Homo sapiens: one gene and its partners. The protein of the gene in region 3 interacts with the protein of the main gene of each other region in a pairwise test. Each region holds a gene or a part of one and is shown on either strand. Other genes may lie near its edges. The genes, in order: HSBP1L1, KCNK5, AGTRAP and MUTYH.

Region 1 (8,167 bases), on a different chromosome or scaffold from region 3:
CAATTCCCATAGTGAACAAATATGGGATTGTATGTTTCAAGATGAAAGCAGTCAAAACATACGAAAACGGTTGACATAGTTTGCTAATAACCTTACCATTTGTTCTTTAATAGAATTTTCAATGCCAGCTTGCACCATTAAGTCCTTGACATTCTTCTGTAAGTCCTCAATGCGATTTCCCATTTCTTCCAGTACAGTGTTAAGGCGCTCTGCGTAGAGCTGGAGTCCAGAGCCGCCGAGGCACAGCCAGGATGTCCTCAGAGACTCCGCCTCCCATGGCACATGCAACTTTTGAAATGAGGGAATCAACGACAGGCCTAGTGTCCATGCAAATCAGCTTCTTTCCCTGAGTTTTCCTCAGTGTGTCTCTTTAACCTTTAAACTGTGAGCTTAGAAAACGTGGCTCCCCTTGCTTGGACATGGATTTGGGGACAGGAGATTGTCTGGTATATTTTAGTCAAACTCTGGGTATGTAAAAATAAATATAATGGAATTAACTCTTTTTTGTTTGTAGGGTCTTGCTCTTCCCCCAGGCTGGAGTGCAGTGGTGTGATCACAGCTCACTGCAGCCCTGAACTCCTGGGCTCAAGCGATCCTTCTGCCTCAGCCTCTCGAGTAGCTGGGACTATAGACTACCACCCAGCTGAAATTAACTAAAAAACTAACATTCATATGGTTTAATTTTATGTTTAAGACTCATTTTTGTCCTGTGGGAACCCATTTACAAAATCAAAAGTTGCAAGCACACAATATTTAAGGAATATATTTAATTGTGTAGCATGAGCTCAAATTGGGCAAGTCTTGGGGCAATTGTGACCCTTATCTAGATTTGCTCCAACTCCAAAAAAAATTATATTCTCATTCTGTTTGATTTCATGTTTCTAAGACAAAACAGTGAGTTGGCGATGTTAAACTAAACAAAACAAAGTTTGGGAGAGCCGTATCTGGGATCCTGTGCTTCAGTGTTATGCTCTGTGGGGTCTATGGTCTAGGGGGCACTGTCCGGTTGGGGACTGATGGAAGCCCCACTGGGAAGTGTTATATGTTTGTGTTTTTGTCCTTTATACTTGCTGCACAAGACATCCTGTGTTGCCAGTCAAGCAGGAGGTAGAGCTTTTTTTTTTTTTTTTTTGAGACGGAGTCTCGCTCTGTCACCCAGGCTGGAGTGCAGTGGCGCGATCTCGGCTCACTGCAAGCTCCACCTCCCGGGTTCACACCATTCTCCTGCCTCAGCCTCCTGAGTAGTTGGGACTACAGGCGCCCGCCACCATGCCGGGCTAATTTTTTGTATTTTTAGTAGAGACGGGGTTTCACTGTGTTAGCCAGGATGGTCTCCATCTCCTGACCTCGTGATCTGCCCACCTCGGCCTCCCAAAGTGCTGGGATTACAGGCGTGAGCCACTGCACCCGGCCGGAGGTACAGCTTTTGCTATAGGTGAGGGGTAATTAACACATCAGGAAGCCACATAAAAGCACAGAAGTAAATACTGGGAAATCCTAAGTAAACTATTACCTACTACTACCAGACAACAAAAAGATACTCCATGATAATCTACCAGTCCGAAAGAATCACAGCATTTGTTAAAGGTAGAAAAGGATATTTCTGAGGTTTAATGTTGCCGTCAGAGCTTGAAAATGTTCCTGAAGTTCCTGAAATAGATTTTCTGCCTGAAAAAATAAACCGTAAGACAATTGAATAAATATTTACTGTTGGCATATGAGTTTTTTTTTTTTTCTGAGATGAAGTCTTGTTTTGTTGCCCAGGCTGGAGTGCAATGGCGCGATCTCAGCTCACTACAACCTCCGCCTCCTGGATTCAAGTGATTCTCCCACCTCAGCCTCCAAGTAGCTGGGATTACAAGCATGTGCCACCAGGCCCAGCTAATGTTTATACTTTCAGTAGAGACGGAGTTTCACCATGTTGGCCAGGCTGGTCTTGAACTCATGGCCTCAGGTGATCTGCCCACCTTGACCTCCCAAAGTGCTGGGATCACAGGCATGAGCCACCACACCTGGCCCACGTATGACATTTTAAATATCATGGGATAAGGCCGGGCGCGGTGGCTCACGCCTGTAATCCCAGCACTTTGGGAGGCCGAGGCGGGTGGATCAGGAGGTCAGGAGATCGAGACCATCCTGGCAAACTAGGTGAAACCCCATCTCTACTAAAAATACAAAAAATTAGCTGGGTGCAGTGGCGGGCGCCTGTAGTCCCAGCTACTCGGGAGGCTGAGGCAGGAGAATGGCGTGAACCCGGGAGGCGGAGCTTGCAGTGAGCCGAGATCGCGCCACTGCACTCCAGCCTGGGCGACAGAGTGACACTCCGTCTCAAAAAATAAAAATAAAAAAAATAAATATCATGGGATAAACCCATCCATAAATCTGTTGACTTCTGACAAAGGTGCTAAGGCCTTTGGATTCAGAGGGAAAGGAAAGTCTTTTCAACAAGCAGCGCGGGAATCATGAGGGCCACGTGCAGACGGGGCAGGGACCCATCCCCCTCCTCACACCACACACCATGAATGCAGGAGATCACACACCTTGGCCCAGAGCCAAGGCCATAAAGCATGCAGAGGAGGATGCAGGAGAAAATCTCGTGACCCTGCGCTCCTCAAGAATTCTTATGAAATTACTTACCAGGTCACACAGAAATACCACCATTGCTACTGAAAGCGTTTCCTGTTTATATACTGCTTTGTAGTTTACAGACTGACGTCCCACACCATTCACGGTGTAATCTACTCCTCACCCTGCGACCGTGTCCAGGGTGAGATGAGAACAGTGAGGCTGAGAAGCACAAAATTCTCCCAGCTGGGGGTTCAAGATCCCAGGGAGCCCCACGTACCATGGTGTGAATCTAGAATCCCGTCGACATAGGAGGAGGCCCCACCTCTGAACCATGCCAGGGCTTTCTACCTTTGTCAGGAAATTTACGTTAGGGTTTGCACAACGCCCAACACATTCCTTCAGATTCCAGGTCTCTTCCTCATAGCCAGTCCTCTTGTGGGCCTGGAACTCTTTGGCAAGTAGGAAGGCCTGGGGAGCGGGAGGATTTCCCGGAAGAGGCCGGAGCCCTGGGCGCTGCGACACTCGTGGGTCCCCTTTCGGGCACCCTTTGGCCCAGTTGTTTCCCCACTGACCCCGACCTCAATGCCCCCCAGTACTGCAGGGCTCCCCCCAGGACCTCAGGCCCCCCGAGGATCGCAGGGTCCCCCAGGACAGCAGGGCTCCCCCCTGCACCTCAGGCCCCCCCAGGACCGCAGGGTCCCCCAGGTCTTCAGGGGCCCCCCCAGGACCACAGGCCTCCCAGGCACTCAGGACTCCTCAGGACCACAGGAGTCCTCAGGATCGCAGGCCCCCCAGGACCTCAGGGCCCCACGAAGACCGCAGGGCACCCCCAGCACCGCAGGCTCCCCCCCCAGGACCTCAAAACCCCCCAGAACCGCAGGGGCGCCCCCATCCAGAGAGAAGCAGGAGTCGGGGAGGGGCTCACCGCGTCCCGCAGCGCGCGCCCGCCGGGGGCTTCAGGGCCCCGCACGTCCATGTGGACCGCTGGCCGGGGGCGTCAGTGGGGGGTCCCGTGGGCCGCGCGGACCCGGCGCGAGGTGGCGACAGCTAAGCTCCGCGATTCCCGTATGGGCCGCCGGGAGGCCTCGGGCGGAGCGCGCTGCGTTCCAGGGCGGAGGCGGGGCCGGAGCGGAGAGGCGGGCGCTGCACCTGCAGGGACGCAATGTCACCGAGCGGCCGCCTCGGAGGACTGGTCCGCGCCCCCAGGCTCTGCGGCTTCCCGAGCCGAGCCGAGCCGAGGCCCCGGGACGGCCTGGGCGGAGCCGCCTTACTCAAGAGGGCCCGTGGGCGCCACCGGCCACCTACACCCCCAAAACGCTCCGCACGGGCAGTGCATGGGCCTCGGTCACCCCTGCTGCGTTTCTCAGAGACGGGGGCTCGCTCTGTGGCCCAGGCTGGGGTGCAGTGGCGACTATGGCTCCCCGCAGCCTCGACTTCCCGGGCCCAAGCGATCCTCCTGCCTCGGCCTGGCCAGTAGCTGGGACCACGGGCGCGCGCCACCAGGTCCGGCTGATCTTTTTTATTTTTTGTAGAGACGGGATCTTACTATGTTGCCCAGGCTGGTCTCGAATTCCTGGGCACAAGTGATCCTCCTGCCTCGGCCTCCCAAAGTGCTGGGACCGCAGGCCTGGGCCACCACGCCGGGCCTTCCCTGGCCTCTTTCACACCTGGGTTGTGGCTCGTCACCTTGTGGGTGACCTCCCAGGACGGTGTTTTAGGGTTACCAGTCTTGTTGCCATGTCTGTGCCCCTGTGCAGCGCTGTGGGAACAGGGCTATGTCTGGTCACCCCAGCATCCCTAGGGCACAGCCCAGTGACCACACCTGGAAGCTCTGGTGTCTCCATGTGCGGATAAATAAAACACAGCCACCCAGCACCACCGCTGTGGCGTGGCGGTTCCCGCCAGGTTACTTCAGGGCGGATGTCTGTGGCCTGAACCCTAAAGGCCAGGCGGTGAGTCCAGGCCACGGTGCCCAGCGAGGAGCAGGTGTCCCTGAGAACCCAAACAGCCCGGAGGGGATGTGAGAACCACCACAGGGAGCAGGCCCATCACACAGACGGCGCAAAGAGGCAGAAAATTAGCTCAAAAGCAGCTTAGGGACAGAAGCACGCTCATCTCTAGAGTTGTCCTGCTGCCCACGAGTGCCCCACATGTGAGTCCTAATAAACTCACCTACTCACCAAGCTGGACTCCGCCCAGTCATTCTTTGGTCTCTCAGCAACTCCCACTTTAGGGTAAGGTTTTAAATGTGATTCTCGGTTTTTCTCATTACAACCAGTCATCAGGAAAACACAAACCAAAACCACAATGAGCTCCCACTGCAACCCACCAGCATGGCTAGAATCAGAGAGACAAACGTAAGTCCGAGAGGCGTGTGGGGATTGTGGCCCCCCCCACGCAGCCGGTGGGCTGTGAAAGGCTGCAGTGCTGTGAAAAAGTCGGGTGGGTCCTCAGAAGTGAAGCAGTTTCCACAGGGCCCAGCCGCGCCACCCCTAGGCATATACCGAAACGACAGCGCGAGTGCACCAAGTCTACTGCAGCATCAGTAATGCTCAAAAGGTGGAAACCACCCAAATGTCCACCCCCAATAAGTAGGTGACAAAATGCAGATGATAGAATATTCCTCAGCCACACAAAGGAGTGAGGCGCTGACGCACGCTACGAAGCAGGCGGGCCTCCGGAACAACGCTGGGTGGCAGAGGCCAGGCGTGAAGACCCTGAGTGGTAAGTCCATGGAGAGTTGGAACAGGCAAGGCCACGGAGACAGAAAGTTGACTTCTGTTGCTGGGGGCTGCAGGGACGAGGGAGAGTGCGGAGAGATTTAGGAGGTCTGGGGTTTCTTTGTGGGGGGACAAAAATGTTCTAAAATTAGATCGTAAGAAGGTTTCACAACCCTGTAAATATACTCAAAACTGTTGAATTATGCCCTTTAAATGGGTGGGTTTTGTGGTATGTGAATTACATTTCAATGAAGCTGTTAAAATTATTTTTTAAAAGCATGGCCATTTTGCCACTTTTTGTGTGCTTTTAGCATCCTCCTCTTTTTTTCTGTCTCTGAGAGAGGCTGAGATACAAACTTAGTTGTAGGGGCCAGTGTGGACGGCTGAGAAAGACGCGGTGTGGGTGGAAAGTGGCTGCTGTGCTGTGGCTCCCGGCCCACTCCCAGGACCATTCAGGCCTAAGGAATCCTGCCGGGCGGCTTCTGGCTTCTCGGGAAAGCCAGTGTGGGTGGCTGCTGAGGAGGAGGAGGCAGGGCCAGAAGATGCCACAGTACAGGGTGGACGGCCTGCACCCAGGAAAGCCTGCCTGGCGTGGGGGGCAAGGAGTACAAGCCGGTGGTGTTTCCATCAGAAACACACCTCAGTGTCAAGAACCAGAAGTCACTCAAGCTAACTTAGGGGAAAAGGAAATTACGCCTGTAGAGAGGAGGCAGACACAGCGGGCTGGCGTCAGCCCTCCAAGCTCTTCAGAGGGCGCTCATCTCTGGAGGCGGGAGGAGATGGGCAGTGGTGCCCCACGGCAGGGCCACGACAGGGTTCCTCATCAGCCCACAGGCAGCTTTCCTAACCACAGACAGCTAAATGAGCAGGGAGCCAGTCAGACTGCCCTCCTTCCTCCCTTCCAGAAAGTTCTAGAACGTCCCCTCTTCCCTTACTCTGCAGGCACGGAGTTCCCGGAAGCTTTACTCCAGGGACAGCCCAGCATCAAGCTCATGGCTTCAGGGGACGGCTCCCTCGTGGTGGGGGCAGGCGCAGACCCAAGGGCTTTCGGTGTCTCCAGGGCGGGGCTGCTCCCTGGCTGCCGCTCCTCCCTTACTCAGGCGGAGCAGGGGCCACAGAGCTCTTGACAGCACTGAGCTCACCAGTGATAAAGCACTTCGGACAGCCGTGAAGGCAGACTGGCGTTGGGACTTTGGAGAGCTTGTGGGCACCCTGTGGAACCCGTTATCTTCAGATGTTGACTGGCTGACTCTGGGTGCAGGTTCAAGCTGGGCACCCTGTCCTCATGGGCTATGCGTTCCTAACCACAGACAGCTAAACGAGCAGGGAGCCCCACTGGCCCACACGAGCCTGGAACTGGCCCTGCAGAAGACGAGACGAGCCTGCCTCTGACCTGGGAACGCCTCTCTCCTCTCCAGCCGGCATCGGCCAGGCTCATATTGGGCCGTCCCTCCAGCCCTGGCTGCTTTTTCAGGTCAGGCTTCTTGGGCAGCCCGAGTAGGACCACCCAGCATCGCCGCACACAGCAGCCTCAGGCCTCACCGACATAGGCCGGGTGGTCTGTGGAGATGACAGGACTGCCTTTCTTTTTTCTGGGATTGGGTTTTGCTGTGTCACCCAGGCTGGAGTGCAGTGGTGCAATCATAGCTCACTGTAGCCTTGAACTGGGCTCAAGGGATCCTCCTGCCTCAGCCTCCCGAGTAGGTGGGACTACAGAGGCACGCCACCATGCCCGGCTACTATTTTTTATTATTTTTCTAGAGACAGGGATCTCCATATGTTGCCAGGGCTGGTCTCAAACTCCTGGGCTCAAGTGATCCTCCCACCTCGGCCCCCCAAAGCGCTGGACTTACAGGCACGAGGCCATGCTGGCCAAGGACTGGCTTTCGAGCAAAGCTCTTCAGCTGGATCTGATGGAGACAACACAGTGAAGGGGTGGGTTGCCCCTCCACACCTGTGGATGTTTCTTGTTAGGTGGAACGAGAGACTTGGAAAAGAAAGAGACACAAAGTATAAAGAAACAAAAAGGGGGCCCAGGGGACCGGCGTTCAGCATACGGATCCACACTGGCACCGGCCTCTGAGTTCCCTTAGTATTTATTGATCATTATCGGGCGTGGCAGCAGGATAATAGGATAATAGTGGAGAGAAGGTCAGAAGGTAAAAACGTGAACAAATGTCTCTGCATCATAAACAACGTAAAGAAAAAAGTGCTGTGCTTTTGATGTGCATATACACGAATATCTCAATGCCTTAAGGAGCAGTATTGCTGCCAGCATGTCCCACCTCCATCCCTAAGGCGGTTTTCCCCTATCTCAGTAGATGGAATATACAATTGGCTTTACACCGAGACATTTCATTGCCCAGGGACGAGCAGGAGACAGAAGCCTTCCTCTTATCTCAACCTCAAAGAGGCGTTCTTTCCTCTTTTACTAATCCTCTCAGCAAAGACCCTTTACGGGTGTCGGGCTGGGGGACGGTCAGGTCTTTCCCTTCCCATGAGGCCATATTTCAGACTATCACATGGGGAGAAACCTTGGACAATACCTGGCTTTCCCAGGCAGAGGTCCCTGCAGCCTTCCGCAGTGTTTTGTGTCTCTGAGTACTTGAGATTAGGGAGTGGTTTGAGGTTAGGGAGTGGTGATGACTCTTAACGAGCAAGCTGCCTTCAAGCATTTGTTTAACAAAGCACATCCTGCACAGCCCTTAATCCATTTAACCCTGAGTTGACACAGCACGTGTTTCAGGGAGCACAGGGTTGGGGGTAGGGTTACAGATTAGCAGCATCTCAAGGCAGAAGAATTTTTCTTAGTACAGAACAAAATGGCCCTCTGCTCAAATTCTACAATGCCAATATGGACTGCGGGTCTTCAAAGTGGT
Region 2 (3,762 bases), on a different chromosome or scaffold from region 3:
GAGTGATGTTGGCAGAGGGAGGGATGGTGTCGTTGCAGAATTGGCTGGTAAATACATATAATCCTTTGTAAACACATCCATGCCCTCATGAAAAATGTGGTTCACTCCGGAAATCATACTTTTTTTTTTTTTTCCAATGAACTCAGAAATCATCCTTTCTGGTGCTGAGCCCTGAAATGGTCATAGAAGGGGCCAGTCCCCAAACAGCTGAAGCCTGACAAAGCCTCCCTTTAGACAGATGGAGACAGATGCCCGGCTGAGCCTGGCTCCATTCTTCCTTCACATTCTTTCCAGTCCACAGTGCCCACGCTCAGGCTCTACATTTCCTGCCCACCCCTTGAGTTGAGAAGGCTTGAGCTTCGCTCAAGTTCTCTGGTCCACCTACCTGGAGACAGGAGCCCTTTCCAGAGATGTTGGGTGTGCCACAAAACCACAGGTAGTCTTTTTCATCTCATCACAGTGGTAGAGGGGACAGGAGCTGGGCTGCCTGGGTTTGAATCTAGTCTCACCATTTTTACTGAGATTTTGCACAAGGCAACTTCTCTGTGCCTGTTTCCTCGTCTATAAAATGGAGATGTACTGATGCCCTCTCAGGGTTCTTGCCAGGTCAAATGAGTCCACTCACGTATTATTCAGTGCAAGCATTTAGTGCCTGACAAAGTGGTGAGTGACATGCGTTTGCCATGATCACCCCGCCTCTCCCCTTGCTCCTCCCACTCCTTCCTGATTCTCAAACCTCTACTGCAATGTTCCTCCCGCGTCCTTACCTCCCCACAGAGGCCTGCCTCTCCCCGCTCTCTTCATCTCTTTTCATTCTTTTCTCCCCTCCAGACCATCCAATCCTCTTATCAGTCTGTCCTGAGTCCTCTCTATCTTCTGTGGATGCGCCCAGGCTCCCCTGCTGCTCAGAGGCCAGAAGCCAACCCCTCTCTAACCTGACCCACACACAGCACACACCAAGCTGGCCTGTCCACCTCATGTTTTATTGTAAAAATGTTAAAATAAATTACATTTGACATCGTTGCCAGTATGTACATACAGTGTGCGCGATGCCAGGACAACCAGCAACAACATGGTTCATTAAAACATTTCACAGAAAAATACGAGGCTGCTCCTTTTCAGGCCCCTGCTGGGTGGCGGCCTCTGCAAACGGCTAGAGAAGTGGGGGTGTGGGCACGTGCCCATCACTGTCTTCACATGTTGGGGAGGTGGGCTCTGGCCCCACTGCCCCACAGTAGTGGGGCAGAAGGCAGAGAGTGAACGGAGCTGAGCGGCTCTGATGACTTGCTTCCTGCCCGGCCTCCAGTCACCCGCAGTGGATGCCCCTTCCTGCTTTTGCTCACCTCAGTGTCCCCTTCTCCACCTCTGCTTGGGGACATGGCCCTTGACATCATGGCCTTGGATGAGGTCACCGAAAAAGGCCCAATTGAGTTGCAGGGCAGGAGGGCAGACACTAGATCTCCCAATCCTTGGGACCCTGCTCTTTAACCACTGGCTCTGAAGCCAACAACAGATTCCAGGTATATAAAAACAGCAGTTTGTTTAAAAAATAAAACAAAAAATAACAAAAACATTCAGGACACAGTGGGCCAGCCCCAGGGTGAACATCATGGAGAACCCAAGAACTCTAGTAGCAGCAAGTTCTGCCCACCCCTCACCAGAGAGTCCACCAACAGTTTCACATTATCTTTTGCTCCCCAGCCCAAATCCTTTCCTTTCTTAAACACACACGAGTGCACAGGTGTGCGTGTGCACACACGCACTGTGCACACACACGTGCACATCAAACACTAGCTAGAGAAAGGAGCTTGATTCACATATCTGACCATCACCCATTTGTGGGCCAAGAGCAATTTGGCCTCACCCTGCCTGGCCCAAGGGGGCTGGTGGGAGGGGAAGGCGGGCAGTGAGGTCCTTGTTCAGGGCACAGGGAAGGAGAAGACAGCAGGATTGGGAGTGCAGGTCCTGGGGCCAGCGGGCAGGGTGTGCAGTTCTCAGGCGGGCAGGAGGGGTAAGGGCAGAACCAGCCAGAGCTGAGCCTCACTCTTGCAGCTCCCTGGCCACCAGCCCTAGCAGTCCCGGCTTCCAGTAACCCATGCTCTGCTACTCTCCCTCCTACCACTTGGGGGCCCACAGAAAGCCTTGCGTCTGCCACTGCTTGACCTGAGACAGGGAACACAGCTCTGGGCTGGGCCTGAGTAGACCAACAAGGAGGATGAGGACCCCAGGCCCCAGGCCCACATAGGACTTGTTTCCAGGCCCTGTGAGTCAGGACTGTTTGAGACCCTGCCCTCATCTCCTCACTCCCACCTCCAGCAGCCTCCACCCCACTACGGTTTGTAGTAGGTGCCCGACCTGACCGGCAGGCCCACAGCTGGGATGCGGGCGGGCCCTGCTCCTGCTGTGGTACGGAAACACCTGACCCCACGCACAGCGGTACCTCCCCAGACACTTCAGAGCTCCCTCTCCAAATGCCGAGCTCAGTAATACCGGTAAACTTAAACAGCTGAGGCCCCAGACCTCAGAGAACCGTGTGATACTCCACCAAATGGTGAGACAAAGACCCTGCAGGCAAGGCCTCCTCAGGGTCAGTCCTGCCCACCTGTCCCGCCAGCCAGCATGTCTTTGCATTGTGAGATACACCAGCCAAGCTCAGGACAGATGCCCCCACAGCCAGGGTATGGTTCAGCTGGAGAACAGAGGCCCTGTCCCGGGCATACATCTAGCTGAGGATGATGGAAGGTTAGGAAGGCCCCTGGCCCCCCACTCCCAGTTCCGAGGCTGCCCCCCCACCAGGGGCCAGGCGTCCCGGTCATCTCGGGACACCCTAGGGTGAGGGGGGAAGAGGCCATCAAAGGTGGGGTGGGGAGCCGGCCCTGCCTCATGTGCCCTTGGGGCTGTTAGCCTTGTTGTACTCATTCATCAGCTGTTCGTAAGGCACAGAGAGCTCAGACTCAGTGCTGGTGAAGGTGGACTCGGAGGAGGAGGGGAACTCGCCCATGTTCAGGGGCGCCTTGGCTTCAGCCCCCTGCTGGGGGCTCTCCTCCCCTGCCAAGTTGTCCTCTAGCGAGGACTTGGAGGTCTCCTCGTCTGAGAGGCCAGCCTCCGTGTTCACGAAGGTGATGCTGGCGTCCTGGAAGATGAGTGGGTGGTAGTCCTGGGCGTCCCATGGCTCGCATTCCTCGCTGATGCGGTCCAGCTGGTTCATGAACACCTCGGGGGCAGGGGAGCTGTCTTCAGGGGCCCGTGCCACAGCCTCCTCATCTGGGGACCTTGATACGTGGCCTTTGCTCCTCAGTGTCTGTGACACCTCTTCCAAGGTGGGCACCCGGTTCTTGGAGTAGACTACCAGGGGCACCAGGGAAGGGGGCAGTGCTGGGAGCCCACCGCCTTGAGGCCCCAGCCCTGGGCCCGGGCCCGTCTCCCCACCCCCGCTTGTCTTCATGGCCTTCTTCCCGATCTGCTTGATGAGGTCGTTGTAGGTCTCTTCCTTCTTGGAAAGAAAGCTGAAGATGTTGACGTCCTTGGAGGCTGTGCTCCCCTTCACCTGCAGGGCCTTCCGGGAGTGTGGGGAGCTCTCAAAGGACTCCTTCCGTCGCCGCCGCCGCTTCTTAATGGCTTTGTGGACTTCCACAAACATGCTCACCTTCCAGTTGACAAAAAGGGACAGCCAGGCCAGCCCCAAGTAGATCCAGAGCTCCACGAAGTAGCGGTACAGGGCGTGGTAGTTGGCGCTGGGGTTCACACCTGAGCGGACAGGCA
Region 3 (7,757 bases):
ATTTATAGGACATTCACTAAAGTGTAACATGCAGAAGACATGTGCAAGGCAGGTGTGGAGTGCCATTCGGTTCAATAGGTCTTTGAATAAACCATCTTATCTTTTGCTTTTAAGAAAGCAGGTGCCTGGGTCCCAGCCCAGAATCACCAACTCAGAATCTTGGGGAAGTGTGACTAAGAAATCTGTATTTTGGCCCTGCTTCTCAAGGTCGTGAATCATGATGGTTACAGTTCACATTACTCACAGCTGTTGCCCTGTGCGCTGCACTTCGAAGTTTGCAAAGTGCACAGGTGAGCTCAATGGTTTCCAGTCTTGGTTTGGCAGAGAAATGTCTCCAGAAGCTCAACAGATTAAAAGAGATGGTAAAGGTGAAAATCAAGCTGCAGTGCTGAGGCCTCACTGTGGGGCAGGCCCTGGGGAGCTCTGATGAGCACTTCCACGTCTCCCTCCCAGCTCCTGCAGGGTGTGCAATCCTTATGCCTATTGTACAGACGGAAATCAAGACCCGGAGAGGCAGAGCTGTCTGGCCCAAAGTGACCTGGTTAAAACACGGCAGAACCAGGACCTGACCCGGCTGACACAGACCCTGAGACCGCAGGAGACACACAAGATACCCACAGAGTCACTTACCAGGTTGTCAGCAGCCAGTGACCTAGGAGAATCACCTGTGGCACAACAAGGGGGAGAGAAGAGGTCTGTGAACATGACCACCACAGGGGCAGGAAAGCGTCGGGTGCAGAAAACACAGGACGCCCCTGCGCCTGGCACCTCTGAGGGCCTCAGTAATGTCTGTTGAAAAGGCACACCAGCAACTGCAGGTGGCCCAGGAGTGAAGGAGGAGGAAGAAAGCAGGCCAGGCCAGGGAGGGGCCGCTTCATGCCTTCACCCCTCCCATGGGGCAGCTGACACCCACACCCCTTCCAAGCGTCAGAGGCGTATGAACCAGAGCAATTCCATCTTGAATAGGAGCTGGGTAAAATAAGGCTGAAACCTAGTGGGCTGCATTCCCAGATGGTTAAGGCATTCTAAGTCACAGGATGAGACAGGAGGTCAGCACAAGGTACAGGTCATAAAGACCTTGCTGACAAAACGGGTTACAGTAAAGAAGCCGGCTAAAACCCACCCAAATCAAGATGGCCACGAGAGTAACCTCTGGTTGTCCTCACTGCTACACTCCCACCAGCACTATGACAGTTTACAAATGCCATGGCAACGTCAGAAAGTTACCCTATATTGTCTAAAAAGGGGAGGCATGAATAATCCACCCCTTGGTTAGCATACTATCAAGAAATAACTATAAAAATGGGCAACCAGCCTGGGCGCGGTGGATCACACCTGTAATCCCAGCATTTTGGGAGGCCGAGGTGGGTGGATCACCTGAGGTCAGGAGTTCAGGACCAGCCTGGCCAACATGGTGAAACCCTGTCTCTACTAAAAATACAAAAATTAGCCGGGCATGGTGGTGTGTGCCTGTAATCCCAGCTACTCAGGAGGCTGAGACAGGAGAATTGCTTGAACCTGGGAGGTGGAGGTTGCAGGGAGCCGAGATTGTGCCATTGCACTCCAGCCTGGGCGACGAGAGAAACTCCATCTCAAAAATAAGTAAATTAATTAATTAATTAATTTTTTTAAAAAGGGCAACCAGCAGCCCTCAGGGATGCTCTGCCTATGGAGTAGCCATTCTTTTATTCCTTTACTTTCTTAATAAACTTGCTTTCACTTTACTCTATGGACTCGCCCTGAATTCTTCCTTGTGCGAGATCCAAGAACCCTCTCTTGGGGTCTGGATTGGGACCCCTTTCCTGTAACACAAGGGTGGGAGGCTCCTTTGTGGAATGCAGGGAATCTGCTCTGAAATCAGAAGAGGCCTCGATGGGAAGCGGAGCGGTGGGGACTCACGTGAGGGTGATTTCTTGGGACACTGGAGCTGGCGCACTGTGGGGGGCAGAGGGGAAAGCAGCTGTTGTGGCTGGAGAGAGCGGGCAAAGGGAGGGTAGCTGGGGACAGGTAGGGGGGCCTGAGGGCCTCGGGAAGGAGCGTGGGCTTCATGCCAAGTGCAACGAGGGACACCACTGAGACTTTTCTACAGGGAGATAGCTTGGTATGCCTTATGGTAAGGAAAAACAACAACAAAATCCCCCTGGCTATTTTTCTGGATTTCTGCAATATTCTACTTTTTTCTTTTTAAATTTGGAGACAGGGTCTTGCTCTGTGGGTCAGGCTGGAGTTCAGTGGCGCCATCACAGCTCACTGCAGCCTCAAACTCCTGGGCTTAAGTGATCCTCCTGCTTCAGCCTCCCCAGTAGCTGGGACTACAGGTGTGTACCACCACGCCCAGCTAATTTTTGTTTTTTTGTAGAGACAAGGTCTCCCTATGTTAACCAGGCTAGTCTCAAATTCCTGGGCTCAAGCAATCTACCCACCTTGGTCTCCCAAAGTGCTGGGATTACAGGCAGGAGCCACTGCACCCAGCTACAATATTTTACCCTTTTTAATGTCCTCTGTGTCCTTAAAATGACAGCCTCCTCTCCTGGAACTGGTCTCTACTCCGGGACATCAACAAGGCCCTGACTGGAAAGCACATAGAAAAAGGGCAGATGGAGGCTGGGCACAGTGGCTCACGCCTGTAATCCCAGAACTTTGGGAGGCTGAGGTGGGCAGATCACCTGAGGTCGGGAGTTCGAGATCAGCCTGACCAGCATGGAGAAACCCCGTTTCTACTAAAAATACAAAATTAGCCGGGCATGGTGGCACATGCCTGTAATCCCAGCCACTCAGAAGGCTGAGGCAGGAGAATCGCTTGAACCCAGGAGGCAGAGGTTGCAGTGGGCCGAGATCGCGCCATTGTACTCCAGCCTGGACAACAAGAACAAACCTCCGCCTCAAAAAAAAAAAAAAGGAAAGAAAGAAAAAGGGCAGATGGGCTGGGCGCGGTGGCTCACCCCTGTAATCCCAGCACTGTGGGAGGCCAAGGCAGGTGGATCACTTGAGGTCAGGAGTTCGAGACCAGCCTGGCTAACATGGCGAAACCCTGTCTCTACTAAAAAGACAAAAATTAGCTGGGCATGGTGGTGGGCACCTGTAATCCCAGCTACTCCGGAAGTTGAGGCACGAAAATTACTTGAACCTGGGAGGCAGAGGTTGCAGTGAGCCCAAAATGGGCCACAGCACTCCAGCTTGGGTGACAGAGTGAGACTCCATCTCAAAAAAAAAAAAAGAAAAGAAAAGACAGATGCCTTGGGAGGGCAGGCAGCTGCAGAAAGAGCTTCCAAAGGGAAGGGACCCAGGCTGAGCACAATGTATGAGCGGGGCTCGGCCAGGCAAAGTGGGGCCAAGCCCCAGGCCCTGCATGGGTGGCGGTGGGCATGGAGATAACTGAGGTCGGGGTGGGGTGGCACAGAGACTTTGGGAGGCCAGGAGCCCCAAATTGGGAGCTTCAACGGGCCTGGTGGTCAATGAGGGCCCTAGAAGTTTACTCAAGGGATTGAGGGGTCAGGCTGGAAGGGAGAGATGCCACATGCCTGGGGCAGAGGCAGTGTCCTGGCGCAGACATGGGCAAGGTTTGCGAAGAAGGCCGGGGTTTCTGGCCTGGGTGGAAGGGCAGAAGGAGCCCTCACCACCTGCAAAAAAGAACTGTGGGCCAGGTCTGGTGGCTCACGCCTGTAATCCCAACACTTTAGGAGGTGGAGGGAGAAGACTGCTTGAGCCCAGGAGTTCGAGAACAACCTGGCTAACAAAGTAAGATCCTATCTCTACAAAAAATCAAAAAATTAGCCAGGTATGGTGGAGTACATCTATAGCCCCAGCTACCTGGGAGGCTGAGGTGGGAGAATCACTTGAGCCAGTGAGGTCAAGTGTACAGTGAGCCAAGATCATGCCACTGCACTACAGCCTGGGGGACAGAGCAAGATCCTGCCAGAAAGAGAAAGTAAGGAAAGAAAGAAAAGAAAGAAAGAGAGAAAGAGAAGGAAGAAAGAAAGAAAAAGAAAGAAAAGGAAGGAAAGAAGGAAGGAAGGAAGGAAGGAACGAAGGAAGGGAAAGAAGGGAAAGAAAGGACAGAAAAGAAAGACAGACAAACTCACTCTGGCAGCAGAGGAAAAAGCATTTCTAGAAGAGTTACTCTTGACCACACACCAACTATGTGCCAGGCCCTATGCCAACCGTCTCACATGACCTTATCTGGACCTCACAGCAGCCTCTGGTACTATTATTCCCATTTCACAGATGAGAAAACCAGACTCAGAGATAAATTATGTTGATCAAGACTCCACAGGTAGCAAGTGGCAAAACTGGAATTAAATTTCAAACTCGCCTCCAAAACCAGTGCACCCAACCTCCCCGCTGGGGGCGCAGGCCTTCAGCTGGGAACTGTTTGGGCTTGTGAGAAAGGTCCACACATGGGGGCAGATGGAATCCAGAGCTGGTGGCTGAGATACTTCACCTTTACCTCCAGGGCCCAGGGCCAGAGTGAACCACAAGGGGCCTGGCTCTGTGGCCCAAAAGAAATTCCTTTCTCAGCTCCAAGAGACTAGGAAAATAATTCTGTAAGGACCGATGCACCCAACTTTAAGATCTCGAGACTCTGACCAGGCTGAGTAGTGTGTTACAGAAGTCTAGCTCTAGAAGGAATCTTCGCCATCACCTCACCTACCTTCGTCTACTATTGAGCGCTTCCTATGTGCTAGGTGCCATTCTAAGTGCTTTCTGTATATAAATGCACTAAATCCTTACAATCCTCTGAGGTCTTATTATCCCCATTTTACAGCTGAGAAAACTGAGGCTCAGAAGGAAGTAACTTGCCCAAGGTCACAGAGCAGGCCAGTGGCAGAGCCAGGACTCAAACCCAGGCTGTGCTGTCCAGCCATTAGGCCTCTCCCCATTACAAAGATGGGGAAACTGAGGCAAGAGAGGTGTAGTCTTCCATGGATTTCAATCCCCAGGGGCTTGAAGTGATAAACGGTGTTAAGTTTCTTAAACATTTAGTGTCACCCAGCATCACTGGCACCTGCTTTTCATTCACCCTGGGGAGTCAGAGGTGTGCAGAGCAGATTCGGAGCTGCGCTCTCAGTACTGACCTCGCTAACCAGGTACTCTGCCCTAGGAATGGAGGTGCAGTGAACCCTCATCCCGAAGGAAAGCACCTGATTGAAGGAAAGCATCCTGAAGGAAAGCAAGGGAAAGGGCACCTGATTGAACAGCAGGGAGGCTGGGAGGGTTGGGGTGGTCAGGGGCTTCTCTGAGGAAGGGATGGGGGAGGCTGAGGGGGAAGAAGAGCATTTTGAGCAGGAGGGGCGGCACTCACAAAGGCTCTGTGGCAGAAGGGGGGCGTGGAACTTTCTGGAAACTGAACAGAAGCCAGTGTGGCTGGAGTGGAAGGTGAGGGGAGTGGAGGAGGGAGGGACAGGAAGTTGGGGGCAGGCAGGGCTGGGCATGAGGACGATTCTGATCTTTATCTTCAGAGCTAACCACTGTCCCCTCCATCTGATAGTAAACCCTGGACCACAGACAGGAAGGAACTTGCTCAGGGCCACACCGCAGAGTCAGCCACAGTGGTCCCAACATCCAGCTTTTAAAGAAGACACCGAGGAAAGAGACAGAGGGAAGGTAGCTCCCATCACCCCTTTCCTCCCCAAAATCGACACCTAACTCTTCCCACTCTGGGCTTGTTTTGGAAATGATCTTCATTTTCAATGCTCTCGCTCCTATGCCTAGACTGTACACAGAGTAGGTCTTTAATAAATGGGCCCTGCAGAGCCCTGGATTATTCCGGAAAGAATGGCAGTTAGCATGAAAGGCTGAGTCCCAGGGGGGCCTCTGATCCGCAGGATACCCTAAGGGTCATGCTTACAACCTATGAGGTAAAGGCTTTTCCTAGCGCTGGAAGGGCCTGTAATACAGAGTGAGCACCCAGCTGGGCCCACACCTCTGCCATCTCTGTTAGGGAAGAAAACAACGTAACCTGGAAATACTGCAGATCCTTAGCACACACACAGTCTCCTCTGCGTGACGTCACTTTGGTTTGATAAATATGAACAAAGTTAGCACCAGTTGCTCCTCTTAAGCCCCTGGGAAAAGAAACGTCCAGAAGCCTAAGCCTCCCCTGCCTCAGTTTCTTCATCTGTGTAACAGGAGGACACCCAGAGAGGCCTTAATGTGCAGGAAGACTCCAGGGAGAAACTGAGCCAAACGGGCCCTGCACTTCCTGGCAGCCCAGGGAAAGAGGGGCCAGTAACTGTCAGGACAAAACCACTGTCTTTTGGCCCTGGGGGAGCTTCCTGGTAGCCAAAGAGACACAGGATTCTCAGGTATGGCCTGAAAGAGGAGCTGGAAGCAGGGAAGGAACCTGAGCTAAACGGGTGGCAGGGCCAGGACCTTTCCCAGCTGGGCAGGAAGGACGGACCTGAGCCCCTGGACTCTCACTACAGTGCTCAGCCCAGGGGAGGCCGCCCAGCTCTTTCCCAGACAGGGGTCAATGGACCAAGGCAGCAGAGGGTCCCAGGATGCTATGCTGGAACAGGAAACCTGGGTGCTGGTCCAGGCGCCAAGGCCTCAGGCTCCTTTCTGCGAAACGGAGGCAGTACCCATTTGTCCCACGGGGGTGCCTCAACTGCCAGAGACAAGCATCTATCTGGACGGTCACTGTAAGTATCCGTTTACTAACTGTTAAATACCTATGTGGGGCAGGGATCCTGCATCATCAACGACAGCAGCAACTCCTGCTACTGACAAGCACCAGCCTGCCATGCATCTACACTGCACTGCCCCTAACTCATGTCATCCGTGTAACTGTATGGGGTAGAACTGAGGCTCTGAGAGATTAAGTAAATTGGCCCAATTCATAAAGCTTACAAACAACAGAGCCCAGACACAAATGTCAGAATCAATCTATCCAGCCAGAGTTTTTGTTTGTTTTTTTGAGACAGAGTCTTGCTCTGTCGCCCAGGCTGGAGTGCAGTGGTGCGATCTCGGCTCACTGCAACCTCTGCCTCCCGTGTTCAAGTGATCCTCGGTGCCTCAACCTCCTGAATAGCTGGGACTACAGGCGAGCACCACCACACCCAGCTAATTTTTGTATTTTTAGTAGAGGTGGGGTTACATCATGTTGGCCAGGCTGGTCTCGAACTCCTGACCTCAAATGATCCACCTGCCTGGGTCTCCCAAAGTGCTAGGATTACAGGTGTGAGCCACCACGCCTGGCCCAGCCTGAATTTGTAACCCTAATTCTAGACTACGTCCTGGACCATGGATCCATCATCCTAGGAGGTAGGGACTGTATTTAACTTCTTTTTACAATGAAGAAATAGATACTGAGAGAGTTCAGAAACCTACTCAAGGTCACACAGAAACCTACTCAAGACCTTGAATGCAGACCTGCCTGCCCCCAAAGCCTGTGCTCTGTCCACTGTGCTACACCGTCAGGATCTCGAAGAGCCGTAGAGGGCAGATGGAAATGAGGAAGTCTAACCTGGAGAAGGAAAGGCTGAAGAGAAACCAGCAGGGCATGCAGACCAAGACTTAAACCCTTTGTTTGCCACTAGAGGACCCATGGCGGGGTAGGACTTCCCAGAAATGGAATAAACTCCTACCAGTCCTGTGCAAACACTTGGTGGCCTGTTACACGTGCTAGTGAGATCCCCCAGGGTGGCCGGGGCCCAGGGACACCAGTCAGGGCTGCCAAGGATGGGAGGCAGAGTTGTGCAGCGGTTAACTTCGTGGGTACTGGAGGCAAACAGGTGGATCTGATCCTGGCTCCATGA
Region 4 (8,659 bases), about 34 Mb from region 3:
CTCCCCACCCTTGAGAATGTACTTTGTGAGATCCACCCCCTGCCCCCAAAACATTGCTCTTAACTCCAATGCCTATCCCAAAACCTATAAGAACTAATGATAATTCCACCACCCTTTGCTGACTCCTTTTTTTCAGACTCAGCCTGTCTGCACCCAGGTGAAATAAACAGCCTTGTTGCTCAGACAAAGCCTGTTTGGTGGTCTCTTCACATGGACACACGTGAGACACCCCTCCCATAATCTGTTTTGCCAGATGGTATATAAACTCACGAACTCTGTAGGGAGATGGGTAATCACTTTATGGTTCTCCCAATGTGCATGTTAATAAATTTGTATGCCTTTTCTCCAGTTAACCTGCCTTTTGTGAGCTGATTTTTCAGCAGATCTTCAGAGGGCAAAGGGAAAGATTTTCCCCTTGGCTCGTAACACAATCAAATCCCACCCTCCTTCCCTTCATAGCCAAACTTCCTTCACCAAACCTGCTTACTTCCACATTCATTCTACAATCTATTCTCCAAAGAGCAAAGGAATCTTTTCCAGATCACGTCACTTCCTTCCTTATAACCTTCAATGGTTTCCCATTCTTTTTTTTTTTTTTGGGATGGGGTCTCACTCTGTCACCCAGGCTGGAGTGCAGTGGTGTGATCTTGGCTCACTGCAACCTCTGCTTCCTCGGCTCAAGCAATCCTCCCACCCCAATACCCCACCCCAACTCCAAGCAGCTGGGACCACAGGCGCACACCACCACCACATCCAGCTAATTTTTGTATTTTTGTTAGAGACAGGGTTTCACCATGTTGCCCAGGCTAGTCTCCACCTCCAGAGCTCAAGCAATCAACCCGCCTCGGCCTCCCAAAGTGCTGGGATACAGGCATGAGCCACGGCGCCTGGTGACACCCCATTATATTCTTTTATTTTCTTTCTTTTCTCTTTTTTTCTCCCTCCCTCTTTCCTTCCTTCCTTTTTTCCTTTTTCTTTCTTTTTTAAATACTGTAGGCCTTTACTATGGGTCATTAAATTCTTGAGCAAGCTGGTTGTGGTGGCTCAACACTGTAATCCTGCTACTCTGGAGGCTGAAGTGAAGAACAGCTTGAGCCCAGAAGGTCGAGGCTGCAGTGAGCTATGATTGTGCCACTGCACTCCACCCTGGGCTCAGCAAGACCTTGTCTCTTAAAGAAAAAAAAAGATTGAGCAAATATTTATAGAGCCCCCTAATATGTGCCAAGCAGTTTTAGGCACTTGGCATACTTCAGTAAATAAAACATCAAAAGTTCCTGCCCTCAGGGAGCTTATATTCTAATGGGGACAGAAAAGGAATAATGAACATAAGTAAATTCCATAAGATGTTAGGTGATAAATATTAGCATAAAAAGCAAAAATTAGACCAAGAGGGGAAAAAAAAGAGTGCCAAGGTGGGGTTTAATGTTGCAATTTTAAAGACTGTGGTCAAGGTAGACCCAAAGCATTCTAAGTGAGTGCAAAGGCCCCAAGGAGGGTGCCTGGTATGTCTGTGGTACAGTAAGTAGGTCAATGTGGTTAGAATGGAATGAGATGGGACTGAGTGGTAGAAGAGGTCAGAGAAGTAAACCAGATGAGGTGGGGAGAGGAGGGTCACAAAGTACCTTATAGGCCATTGGAGGGATTTGGCTGCCACACCCTTGCTCTTAGAAGGCAGTCCTCTTACTACAGCCTTGCAGGTCCAGTGATCCGGGCACCATCCGCCTCATCCCCTCACTATGCTCTAGCCAAGGTTGACTGAATTTAGTTGCTTAAACACCTCAAGTGTGTCTGCCCACCTTGGGGCCTCACACAATCCATTTCCTCTGTTTGGACTCTTTTATGCTTTTACCTAACACCTTATCATTTTTCAAGTCTTGACTGAAATGTCCAAATCAGGTCCCCTCATCTTATCCTATCACATATTTCTGCCTTGTAGCTCTTACCTAATGTAATTTTACATTACTTTGATTCTTTCCATCAGTGTGTACTTCCTGAATTTGACTGTAAAAAACGACTTGAGTGCAAGGACTGATTCTCTTGTTGATTGGTGTGTGTCCAAAGTCAGTGCCAGGTAAACTGTACACAATAGATACCTGTTAAATGAATTAATGGGATGGGGGATAGTCAAAAGAGTTTCCCTTTTTTAGGATAGGAGAAATCCAAAGAGTTTTTTTATTTTTGTTTTTTTTTTGTTTGTTTGTTTTGTTTTTAGAGACAGTGTGTCCCTCACTTTGCTGCTCTGCCACTCAGGCTGGAGTGCAATAAGAACATGGCTCACTGCAGCCTCGACCTCCTGGGCTCAAGCCATCCTCTCACCTCAGCCTCCTGTAGCTGGGACTACAGGTGCGCACCACCATGCCCAACTAATTTTTAATTTTCTTTTTGTAGAGACAAGGTTTCACTATGTTGCCCAGGCTAGTCTTGAACTCCTAGGGTCAAGCGATCCTCCCACCTTGGCCTCCTAAGATGATTACAGGCCATAAGCCACTGCGCCCGGCCCAAGCAGTTCTGAATAATGATGAAATGGGCTCAGTTGAGAGAAGCTGAAGATTAACTATAAACAATGAGTAACAAAGGAGCACTGGAAGGCAGAGGTGGATGGGAATCGTAGTGTTTACGGAGGGACTAGTCTCCAATAGGAATTTTTTTTTTTTTTTTTTTTTTGAGACGGAGTTTCGCTCTTGTTGCCTAGGCTGAAGTGCAAAATGGCGTGATCTCGGCTCACCGCAACCTCTGCCTCCCAGGTTCAAGCGATTCTCCTGCCTCAGCCTCCCAAGTAGTGGGATTACAGGCGCCCGCACCATACCCAGCTAATTTTTTTTGTACTTTTAGTAGAGACGGGGTTTCACCATGTTGGCCAGGCTGGTTTTGAACTCCGGACCTCAGGTAATCCGCCCGCCTCGGCCTCCCAAAGTGCTGGGATTACAGGCGTGAGCCACCGCGCCCGGCCTAGGAACCTCTTTCAAATTCAATCACCCTCTAGGTCGACTATACCGCCTAGCTGCTTCACAATTTGTCCCTTCCTCGCCATCCATACTGCCAGCCTTAATTCAAGTTCACATTATCACTTGATTGGATTATTACAAAAGCTTCCCTACCAATCGGTCGCTCTTACACCCTGGGCAGCCTCCTCCGATGGCCCACTCCCCGCCTCTTTCACTTTCTGGAGATCACTGAGCTCTCCATCCTCTCTGGGAATTTACCGATGCCCAGAACGCCCTTCTTTCCCCCACACGACCCTCTCCTAGTCTAACTCCTGGGCGTGCTTTAAGCTCAGCTCAGGCAGCGTCACCTTCTCTGGAAAGCCCAAACCCAGCCACCCCACTACCCGCTACCCGCGGCCCACGCTGATGAAGACAGCAGAACACGGAGGCCCCGCGTTCCCGCCGCGAGAGCAGGAGAGAAAGATTACCTCCCGCGAGCTCTAGCGCGCCCGGCTTTCCGGCGCACTCCAGGGGGCGTGGCTCGGGTCCACCCGGGCTGCGAGCCGGCAGCACAGGCCAATAGGCAATTAGCGCGCGCCAGGCTGCCTTCCCCGCGCCGGACCCGGGACGTCTGAACGGAAGTTCGACCCATCGGCGACCCGACGGCGAGACCCCGCCCCATCCCCGACTGCCTGAACCGCGCCAGGAGACGGACCGCAAGTCCAGCGTACCCACAGACGACTCAGGCGGGAGACGAGCGGTGTCATGGCCGCCGACAGTGACGATGGCGCAGTTTCAGCTCCCGCAGCTTCCGACGGTGAGCGGCTTCCCAGAGGTAGCCTTCAAAGCCTCTGCGCTCTGGGAGAGGGGAAGGCCTCGGGCTCATAGTTCTAGAGGCTCCTCAAGCTTCAGAGGACTGCTCCTTCCGCCTGAACTAGCCACGAGGAGACTACAAGTTCCGTTGTACACCGCGGCTCCGGCTGCAAAAGCCTGGAGCGTTGGGAGCATGGGGCTGATGGAGGCATGGCGGGAGATGTAGTCTGGAGCTCATAACGGTTAGTAGTAATAGTTGTGATTCAGTTCAGTGGAGTGGATTGAGCGTTGTGATCCAAAGGAAGGTAGGACGTATTGGGAGCTCTGGTGTGGGGCACTGCCAGGCTCTGGGGCTTACTGGGAGCTGTTGCTTGTGGCGCTGGGGCACCATGAGAACAGTAGTATGGATCCCTGTGGGATATTAAGGGAGCTGAGATCCTCAAGCCCTACAAAATGTTTCCTGCAGGACATGGGAAAAAAGAATCAAAGGTCGTCTAGTCCAACTTTCTCCTCTACAGATTGTGAAAGCGAGGTGGGAAGTAATTTACCCAGGCTCATACAAGCCAGTAGAAGACTCAGGCTTCCTCTCCCCAAATTCAGGGCATTCTCCACTCCAAGGCCTGTGTGTAGAACACGTGGGTTACAAAGGCTTGTGGGAAAAGCTACCAATGGAAACTACCCCCCTTACCACCATCACCGTGGCCTAGCTTGGTGTCTGTTCCCCTGGGCTCTTTCCTTAAGCATGAACATCCATCACCCTCCTAACCCCCAGGTGGTGTCAGCAAAAGCACAACATCTGGGGAGGAGCTAGTAGTCCAGGTTCCCGTAGTGGATGTGCAAAGCAACAACTTCAAGGAGATGTGGCCATCCCTCCTGCTAGCCATAAAGACAGCTAATTTCGTGGCTGTGGACACGGTGAGAGTTGGGAAACAAGGAGGGCAGGTGGTTGTGAAGGGGCTGGTGCTAGAGGCCTGTCACAACTCTCCCTTTACCTACCCACAGGAGCTGAGTGGGCTTGGGGACAGGAAGAGTTTGCTGAACCAGTAAGTATAAGCCCTTTTCTCTTTAGTGCCAGCCCTCAACTGTGGAGTGGGGGGGTCACAGACCTGGGTGGTTTGGGTCCTTCATAAGGCTAACTCCTAGCCACAGCAACCCCCATACCCAACCCCAAGGTGCATTGAGGAACGTTACAAGGCCGTGTGTCATGCTGCCAGGACCCGTTCTATCCTTTCCCTGGGCCTCGCCTGCTTCAAGCGGCAGCCAGACAAGGTATGAGCTGATCTCACCCCAATCCTAGGTGTGGCTGTGGGGTGGAGGGTAGAGAGATTCTAGGGAACATCAGATAGGAAGCATTTCTCTCCCAAATCTTTTTTTTTGACTTGATAGTTTTTTTTTTTTTATTTGAATAGGTTTATGGGGAACAGGTGGTGTTTGGTTAAATGAGTAAGTTCTTTAGTGGCAATTTCTGAGATTTTGGTGCACCTATCACCCAGTGTACACTGTGCCCAATGCGTAGTCTTTTATCCCTCACCTGCCTCCATCCTTTCCCCCCTGAGTCCCCAGAGTCCATTGTATCATTCTTAAGCTTTTGCATCCTCCTAGCTTGGCTCTCTGAAATCTTGATATAGCAGACTTCTCTTTCTCCCAGGGTGAACATTCCTATCTGGCTCAAGTGTTCAATCTCACTCTGCTGTGCATGGAGGAGTATGTCATAGAACCAAAGTCTGTGCAGTTCCTGATACAGCATGGCTTCAACTTCAACCAGCAGTATGCCCAAGGCATCCCCTACCATAAGGGCAATGACAAGGTAGGCCTCTAGCCTCCCTAGCCTTGAGTCTGCCCTTTCTGTGACTTTATTTCTTCCTACCCTAGGCTGGATGTCTGGGGAGAATCTGCTTCTTAGGGAGTATGGGGAATCACTAGTGACAGGGCTTGGGAAACAAGACTGGTATGAGGAGGGTGGGCAGCATTGGGTAAGGTAGAGAGAGAGCGTTCCAAGTGGGGAAGTCTGGGATAAGTGCCCAGCAGAAGAGGCTCCCTGGGGGACTCTGTCCTCCTCATTGACCCCTTTACTTTCATCTAGGGTGATGAGAGCCAGAGCCAGTCAGTACGGACCCTATTCCTGGAGCTAATCCGAGCCCGCCGGCCCCTGGTGCTACACAATGGCCTTATAGACTTGGTGTTCCTGTACCAGAACTTCTATGCACACCTCCCTGAGAGTCTGGGAACCTTCACCGCTGACCTGTGTGAGATGTTCCCAGCAGGCATTTATGACACCAAATATGCTGCTGAGTTTCATGCCCGTTTCGTGGCCTCCTACTTAGAATATGCCTTCCGGAAATGGTGAGGAAATGGTTGAGGGAAAGGGGTGGGGCCTGATACGAGTTTATTTCATTCACTTAAGATATTTATTGAGCTCCTACCATGTGCCCAGGCAGTGTTTTAGGTGCTGAGGATTCAGCAGTGAACAAAACAGACCACAAAACCCTGCTCTTATGGAGCTTATATGCTAGTGGACCATTACCCTCTTGCGCTGTTGCAGTGAACGGGAAAATGGGAAGCAGCGGGCAGCTGGCAGCCCACACCTTACCCTGGAGTTCTGCAACTATCCTTCCAGCATGAGGGACCATATTGATTACCGCTGCTGCCTGCCCCCAGCAACCCACCGTCCTCATCCCACCAGCATCTGTGACAACTTCTCGGTGAGAGCACCCACCTGTTTCTTGGGAGGGAAGGTTCTGATGCCTGGAGCCTCTTTCTAAGCCTCTTTCCCACCCCTAGGCTTATGGCTGGTGCCCCCTGGGACCACAGTGTCCTCAGTCTCACGATATTGACCTTATCATTGACACTGATGAGGCTGCGGCAGAGGACAAGCGGCGACGGCGACGACGTAGGGAAAAACGGAAGAGGGCTTTATTGAACCTACCGGGGACACAGACCTCTGGGGAAGCTAAGGATGGTCCTCCCAAGAAGCAGGTCTGTGGGGATAGCATCAAGCCTGAAGAAACCGAGCAGGAGGTGGCTGCCGATGAAACTAGGAACCTGCCTCACTCCAAGCAAGGCAACAAAAATGACTTAGAGATGGGGATTAAGGCAGCAAGGCCTGAAATAGCTGATAGAGCTACCTCAGAAGTGCCAGGGAGCCAAGCCAGTCCTAACCCAGTGCCTGGGGATGGATTGCACCGGGCTGGTTTTGATGCCTTTATGACAGGTTATGTGATGGCCTATGTGGAAGTGAGCCAGGGACCGCAGCCCTGCAGCTCTGGACCCTGGCTCCCTGAATGCCACAATAAGGTATATTTGAGTGGCAAAGCTGTACCCCTCACAGTGGCCAAGAGCCAGTTCTCTCGTTCCTCCAAAGCCCACAATCAGAAGATGAAGCTCACTTGGGGCAGTAGCTGATGCAACTTCCACCTTGCTCTCAGGTGGAACAGAGGTATTTTGGGTCTCTCTAGCCTGAAATGTCATCCTCAACTGCTACTGAGTTTAGGGGAGGGGGAATGTCTTGACAGACATCACTGCATTGCCCTGGACCGCCTCCTTTATCCCAGTGTTTGAGGTACAAGTAAGAAGGCTGACCAGCACCTGTAACACTGACTTTATTTTTAAGTCTGAAAATGTCTTGGGAAAGTTTTACAAAAAAAAAAATCAACAGAAGCAAGTTATGAAAATATTTGACCAGCTTCATCTTTGGTTATTTCTTATTGCAGCTCTGTAAGGACAGACTGTTCCCAAAGCTCCAGCCATGGCAGGAAGGGAAGCAAATCAGTCCCTGTATAAACCATTTAACCAATTGAATGTATCACATGTTGATAAATACATAGAAGCAGGCCCTAGGGCCTACAAAACCAGCCCCACTCCCAACCACAAGGTTGAAAGTCTTATGGGGCAGAACATTAAGACTCCTTTATAAATATGAAAATAGATTAATCAACAGGAAAAGGTCTTTGAATAGGTTAGCTAAGAGCCATGACCACCACGCTGCCTTGCTGTCCCCTTGCATAGAAATGTAGTGACGTGGTCTGACCATGCAGTAAGTGCAAACAGCAATTACTCAAATGTCTTAGAATACTGGCAAGAAGCACCCCAATATTCAGGTCTGGGAAACAGCCATGACCATTACGGCCTCTTGATCAGCTCCATGTTCCACTCAGTAGCTTATATGCCCCAAGAAAAGGCAAGAGACAGACCTGGGGTGGGGAAAGAACCGGGGTAATAGCTGCCTGCCAGCTCAGCCTAGAACTAGACATCCTCTGGTCCTATCTGGGGAAGTACACTGGAGAGGGTCTGGTGGGAGGCAGACCTCCTTGCTGGATTTCAGAGGCTTGGTATCAGCTGTTGGCCCTAACTAGGAAGGCCTCTCACTGCTGCCTCCCGTCATACACAGCCAATGGGCACTGGGAGCCCAGAAGTTGAGCCTGGCTTGGCCTAGCCTGCCTGCTCTGTAGGCTCCAGGGAAGAATCAAGGCTGTGCACCTAGGGGGCCATATGGTTTCAGCTGAAGGTCCATCCCCAAGGTGAGGCAGGGACTAAACCCCCTCACCCATCCTGCTTTCCCTGGGTTTGCAGGCCTATGCCTGAGGTGGAGAAGGTGGCTGGAGTTGAGCCTGCTGGCCTTTCTTCTACCTCCATCTCCTCAGAAGCACCCGCAGGGCATGGACTGGTCCCCTGGGGCCTGGACCCAAAACCATTTTCTTCCTGGAGAATGGAGCAGTCCATAGCCTCATGGGCTTGAGCAGCTGGTAGGGCAGATGCCCGGAATGGTGGGATCTCTTTAACTCTGTACTTGAGACTACTTAGGCGTGGTGGGGGCCCATCAGATAGCGATTCTTCCCGGCCCACAAATGGACAAGCCTCTTGATGCAAGAACTCAGGCGAACCAGGCAAGGAACGCCACCGGCGAATAGGTGGGGCCAGGGGCT

Evidence for each region.
Region 1: the proteins of AGTRAP (region 3) and HSBP1L1 interact in binary tests that used the Homo sapiens proteins (3 or more experiments, as listed by UniProt).
Region 2: the proteins of AGTRAP (region 3) and KCNK5 interact in binary tests that used the Homo sapiens proteins (3 or more experiments, as listed by UniProt).
Region 4: the proteins of AGTRAP (region 3) and MUTYH interact in binary tests that used the Homo sapiens proteins (3 or more experiments, as listed by UniProt).

The regions. Positions count from the first base shown.
Region 1 is NC_000018.10:79,960,113-79,968,279, reverse strand, and holds the start of HSBP1L1 (heat shock factor-binding protein 1-like protein 1), read right to left. Parts: upstream 3,638-8,167; 5' UTR 3,545-3,637; coding exon 3,494-3,544; intron 1,669-3,493; coding exon 1,602-1,668; intron 192-1,601; coding exon 97-191; intron 1-96.
Region 2 is NC_000006.12:39,188,009-39,191,770, forward strand, and holds the end of KCNK5 (potassium channel subfamily K member 5), read right to left. Parts: intron 3,748-3,762; coding exon 2,882-3,747; 3' UTR 963-2,881; downstream 1-962. UniProt on the Homo sapiens protein: K(+) channel that conducts voltage-dependent outward rectifying currents upon membrane depolarization. Voltage sensing is coupled to K(+) electrochemical gradient in an 'ion flux gating' mode where outward but not inward ion flow opens the gate.
Region 3 is NC_000001.11:11,738,711-11,746,467, reverse strand, and holds part of AGTRAP (type-1 angiotensin II receptor-associated protein), read right to left. Parts: intron 1,936-7,757; coding exon of another isoform or gene 1,900-1,935; intron 666-1,899; coding exon 631-665; intron 342-630; coding exon of another isoform or gene 245-341; intron 1-244. UniProt on the Homo sapiens protein: Appears to be a negative regulator of type-1 angiotensin II receptor-mediated signaling by regulating receptor internalization as well as mechanism of receptor desensitization such as phosphorylation.
Region 4 is NC_000001.11:45,336,564-45,345,222, forward strand, and holds the start of MUTYH (adenine DNA glycosylase), read right to left. Parts: upstream 3,408-8,659; 5' UTR 3,336-3,407; exon of another isoform or gene 1,635-3,335; coding exon of another isoform or gene 1,623-1,634; intron 1-1,622. Other genes in the region: TOE1 (target of EGR1 protein 1), read left to right, coding at 3,690-3,759, 4,510-4,652, 4,740-4,780, 4,910-5,006, 5,386-5,544, 5,821-6,080, 6,280-6,439, 6,519-7,139; TESK2 (dual specificity testis-specific protein kinase 2), read right to left, coding at 8,277-8,659. UniProt on the Homo sapiens protein: Involved in oxidative DNA damage repair. Initiates repair of A*oxoG to C*G by removing the inappropriately paired adenine base from the DNA backbone. Possesses both adenine and 2-OH-A DNA glycosylase activities.